Linked DNA regions of Homo sapiens: region 2 is linked to region 1. The links come from fine-mapping of genetic effects on gene expression. A gene starts in region 1. The other region holds a variant in brackets. All regions are shown on one strand. Distances are between the middles of the regions. Region 1 holds the start of FNIP1 (folliculin interacting protein 1). Region 2 overlaps FNIP1 (folliculin interacting protein 1).

Region 1 (2,500 bases):
GCTAATTTTTTGGAGACGGGGTTTCACCATGCTGGTCAGGCTGGTCTTGAACTCGTGACCTCAGGTGATCCACTCGCCTCGGCCTCCCAAAGTGCTGGGATAACAGGCGTGAGCCACAGCGCCCGGCCACACCTGGCTAATTAAAATTTTTTTTTTTTTTTTTTTTTTGTAGAGACAGGGTCTTACTGTTGCCCAAGCTGGTTTCGAACTACAGAGCTAAAGCGATCTGCCTGCCTCGGCCTTGCAGTGTTGCGATTACAGACGTGAGCTACCACGCCTGCCCAAAGTATTTTTATCCAGCCTTCCAACCATATACAAGTTATTTCCTAAATTTCTCTGAGGATTACATCCCATTGTACGAGCTTCCTCATCCTGGAGGGGGAGTGAGTGAATGGATGGGGTTGCTGAAAATTTATAAGATTAGTTTGATACAAACTCTGATATATTTTGGTTCCATGGGTTAAATAAGACTGTGAGGTCACATGTGAGCAATGTTTTTCTTTTTTTAGAAAGCGTTTCTTCCCTGTAACTTGACTAAAATTCCACAGTTCCTCCCGTCTTCATACCTAAACATTAAGATAGATTTATTAAAAATCTAAATAATTAGCGTAAAGGGTTAGATATCTGTACATATATGTCTTTAGGCTTCCTGACTTCGTTGGTTTCACCTGATTTTGTTGGTTAACAAGGAAACAGCCTAACTCCTGAGCCTCCAATCGCTAGCTCTTCCAAGAGACTAATTCCCGGTGTCAGGGTTCTAGGCGCTAGTACAAACTGCCCGCAGTGCCTGCTCGAGGTCGTCTTTGCGGGGAGCCATGGCTGTGGCAGGGGTCCCGGCAGTTTCCTTCACCAGTCCCTGTGAGCCAGCCCCCGCGCTGTCCAGATCCCAGACCTCTCGCGGGCCGGCGCAGCCTTCTAAGGGCGGTCCTGGGGTCCTGGGCTCAAAGTCCAGCCTTGGCCGCGGCCCCACGGGTACGCTTGTGGGCCTTCCGTGCTCCAGGAGCCGCCAGACTCTGCCCGGCGCGGAATGGAGGTGTGAAGCCGCAGAAGCTAGGGAGGGGCTGACAAGGAAGAGTCGGTTGCCCGTGGTTCCCTACGCAACTCTGTGGGTGCGGGGAGTCGAAGCCTTCTGCACTCCAAGGCTCCTGGCATCGTCCCCGCGCCACCCCGGCGTACCCTCTGATGGTCGCTGACAGCTTCACAGGGGAAGATCGAGACTGACCCTTCTCCCGCTACACATCCCTAGCCACCTTCCAGTCCTGTCCTCTCGGCTCACGCCCCGCCCCTGCCACGTGACGGGACCCGCCAGTGAGCCTATGGGAGGCAGCTCCGCCCCACGCCCCCACCTTGCCCCTTGCTCCGCGCGCCGCCACGTGATGCGGCCCCCCTCCAGCCAATGAGTGCCGGCCTTGCCTCGCGCCCCGCCCCGCGCGCCGTGGCCGTTTGAAGTGACTAATTTCTGTCATATGACTGAGGCGCCCATGGGGGTGGCGGGGCGGCTGTAGGAGCAGGGGCCTAGCAAGCGCCCAGCGGAGCGACCCCTGCCTGGCCGTGGCTAGCATGGCCCCTACGCTGTTCCAGAAGCTCTTCAGCAAGAGGACCGGGCTGGGCGCGCCCGGCCGCGACGCCCGGGACCCAGATTGCGGGTTCAGGTAGGGCGCTGTGGGGCGGGGGTCGCGGAGCCGATGGCCTTGTGGGCTCCGGGCTCCAGGGGTGTTGGGGCCTTCGGTGTTCCGACCCGAGCGGAAGCGCCGCGCCGAGAGCAGCATCTGGTCCTCGGTGGGGTGGAGCCGGCTGCGGGCTAGCGCCGAAGGGTTGGAGCGAGGTCCTACCTTTTATTTTACCCCACCCGCCTCGCCGTTGCCCCTTCCCCCTCCTCCCGTCGGTTTGTTTACGACCTGCCCCCAGCCACGCGCGACTCTGCTCCTCCGGACCTAGCACCGCGGCCTGAGACTTTGGGTCCACACGCCTTCCTGGCACCGAGTAGAGTTGGGCGCGGGCTGGATTGGACCTCAGCCGCCGTACTCCGGGCCGCGAAGTTCTCCCCTCCTCCCCGTGACCAGTTGTCCTCCGGGCGCTGCGTTCCAGCTCCGTTGGCGTTGTGGAGAGAGCGGCACGTTTGGCCAAGCTTCTGAGTTGAGAGAAGGCTGGAGGAGCGAGTAGGCAACGTGCCGTTCTTTCAGGTTTCTTGGACGCTAAAATTGGAGGTGTGCAGTAACCGGACCGAGCGACCTTAATGTTATCGAAGGAGAAATGTGAAACTTGAGTTTAGGGTTACTGCCGAAGGAAGACCAAATTGAATGAAATCTGGCCTTGGAATTGGCTGTAGATTCTTCCTCCTCGAATTGTTACTGAAAAGGAGTCTTAAAAATTGAAAATGTTAGTAGAGCATTTTGTAGTGTTACAGGCTTTGTTAATTTTTCATTGTAGTACCTGTTGCTGGCAGAGTAACTTTTCAGAATTGTAAGATTTGATATAAACCTGAATTCAAGGTAAAATT
Region 2 (3,025 bases), 100 kb after region 1:
TATGACCAGGAAAGACCCTTGTTCTAGCAAAAGTATGCTTTGTTCTCTCTTGGGATCCTAGATGTAGGGACTGTTAAGTGTTATTTAACCAGTGGTAGTAATCAGATATTCTTGAATACATGAGATACAAGGATATATGGATATAAGGAACATGCACTTGATATTCTAAATGGCTTTGTTGCTTGATCCTTCCTCTAGATATGGCACAGTGAATAGTCCTTCCGCTAGGGTTTTCTGGCTCAACAAAGCTTGTACCTGAAGCCCCAACAACTGCTGTAGCTGTCTTCTAACTATGTGACATACATACTACAAATGATGTTATGTTGGGAATTAGTATACTAAGTGACTGATATGTCTCCCTCGACAAGAGGTTCGGTTTAGGTCTACTTCATTTTCTCAATCTTTCCTCCTTTAGACTAGAGAGATAGAATAGCATAGGGAGTGAAAACTAAGACTCTAGAATCTGTCAGACAGACGTGGATTTTAACCCTGGCTCTGTCATTTACTACCTCTGGTGATCTTGGGCAAGTGCATTAGCGTTTTTGACCCCTAGTTTTCTAGTATAAAATAGGTAAATTCAATTTAGTAATAATCTAATAGATTGTTATAAGGATCAAATGAAATTGTGTGTGTAAGGTACTTAGCAGAATGCCTGACATTAGTGGCACCATTCTTTTCTTTTCTTTTTCTTTCTTTTTTTTTTTTTTTTTTTTTGAGGTGGAGTCTTGCTCTGTCACCCAGGCTGGAGTGCAGTGGCGTGATCTTGCCTCACTGCAACCTCTGCCTCCTGGGTTCAAGCAATTCTCCTGCCTCAGCCTCCTCAGTAGCTGGGATTACAGACGCGTGCCACCATGCTTGGCTAATTTTTTTTTTATTTTTAGTAGAGACGGGGTTTCACCATGTTGGCCAGGCTGTTCTCAAACTCCTGACCTCAAATGATCCGCCCACCTTGGCCTCCCAAAGTGCTGGGATTACAGGCATGAGCCACTGAGCCTGGCCTATGGTAAACATAACCTACAGCAGTGCTTCCCCAACTTAAGTCACTTACATCATATCTTAACAATTTTGCCAAATTTATATATCATGTATACTTTTTAAATTTAGTGTTTCTCTTTAAATTTGACCATCTTTTATACCTAAATAAATCTATTTCAACATGAAACTTCATTACCCTAGATAGGGAAACAATATGCTTTACCATAATAAAACTAGCTATAAAAATAAATTTATAGTAACTAAAATTAAAAATATGTATCTGGGCCAGGCGTGTTGGCATGTGCCTGTAATCCCAGTACTTTGGGAGGCCAAGGTGGTTAGATTGCTTGAGCTCAGGAGTTCGAGACTAGCCTGGGCAACATAGTGAGACCCCGTCACAAAAATAATAATAAATGTGTATTTGTATACCACATTGTGTACACTACGTACCACTGTGTAAATTTTATTATTACCAGTAGTCTATGTACCTTACTTTTAGAAAAACTACATTTTTTTTATTGACAACTGTGTGGTCTCTTACTGGGGCAGGGATCTTCTAGATTGTTGTTTGTTTAAATGGGCCATCACATCTTGGAGTGAAAGGCTGTTTTAGTTTGTGTAACTGCAGGATTGCTATGATGAAATTGTAGGCATGCCATACATATATATAAAATTTTAAAACTTTTAAAATATATAAAACATTTTTAAAACTGAGCTAAAGAGTGGTAGATTTAAATTGAAGAAGTTTATGACTATTGTATAATAATCATTTACTTGACTCAATTATTGAGAAAGAGAATAATGTCTACTCATTCATTTGGTTTATGCATCA[T/C]AATGTTTAGGATAAAAGATATGAAAAGCTAGTTAAATATATCTTACTGTTCTGTACAGTACACTCAGTGGTTAGGGGAAATGTAGAGAAAAACAGAGAGAATTTAATTTCACCTTATATTATTTTTTGGTATTAGAAATAATTTGTACAGGCAAAAACTGTATTTGAGATGATATTTCTGCCATATATTAATTTTATTTTAACATTAATTTTAGGCATTTATTATATGGAGCATGCTAACAAATAATTTTAATTTAATATTTTTATTGTAAAAATATCTATAACGTTAGATTTAGCTTTATAAATCATTTTTTAGGTGTACAGTTCAGTAGTGTTAAGCATATTTACATTGTTTTGAAATCAATCTCTAAAGCTTTTTCATTTTGGGACACTGAAACTCTAGTGATACGGTAATCAGTGTGGGTTTTTTTTAGTTTACTGGCATCTTCACTCTTTATATCTGAATTATATGCAAAGTTATTCATAATTTCATTTCTTCATACTTAAACCATAAAGGTTGAGATTATCACATTTTGGGTGCCATTCATGATTAAATAAAAGCATTATATGCATGTTTTTTATAGATGAAGTGTAGGAGAAATCAAATACATTTGCAGAGGGAATTTAGAGCAACTTTTATGAGCTTCCTGATGTACAGTCTACTTTGGCTTCATAACTTCTCAATTTATATAGCCCTGTTTGTATGTTTCTAGAAGTTCTGTGAAAACACAAAATTTGATGATTTTATGAATGTAAGATGGAAATAATTTTAACATCAGGATTATTTGCTTGAGATGACAATTTCTTTGAGTTGTATTGTTTTAATATAAATGTTTAGGTATCTTCTTTATGATTTAGGAGGTAAATTATACAAAGTTGCTTAAACCAAGTGTTAATGGTTTAGGCCTGCCTAGGATACATATCCTAACCATTGATTTGATATTTCAGTAAGTGTTCTACAGTTAAGGAAAAAGAAGCCCATATTAAGCTCAAGATAAGTGGTTTTCTGTTTTCTCAATGTTGAACACAGTTTTTGAAAGCAGGTAAATTGTAGGTGATGGAATTCCAGCCAGCCAGCAGACATTTTATGTGACTACTGTGTTTTTTTAATAAACATTTGAACCTTTAGGCCTGTAGGCCAGGCAAGCTTTCTTTAGTTTGGCATAGGCTGTATCTCTCTCAGTCAGTTGTATTAACCCATATATTGTATAATTTTAT

The links. PIP is the estimated chance that this variant, and not a neighbour inherited with it, causes the effect. A credible set is the group of variants that fine-mapping cannot tell apart.
Region 2: its variant is the best candidate, but not a certain one, in a credible set for the expression of FNIP1 in whole blood (TOPMed, PIP 0.65).

What each region holds. Positions count from the first base shown.
Region 1 is chr5:131,795,982-131,798,481 of GRCh38, reverse strand. It overlaps FNIP1 (folliculin interacting protein 1), which reads left to right and starts at 1,465. Exons shown (of 18, transcript NM_133372.3): 1 at 1,465-1,652. The coding sequence starts at 1,561. RefSeq lists silencers at 1,262-1,521, 1,572-1,851.
Region 2 is chr5:131,695,658-131,698,682 of GRCh38, reverse strand. All of the region lies in intron 11 of FNIP1 (folliculin interacting protein 1), which reads left to right. Among named protein-coding and RNA genes, the nearest start is that of RAPGEF6, 62 kb to the right of the region's middle. The variant T/C (reference allele first, on the strand shown) is at 1,808.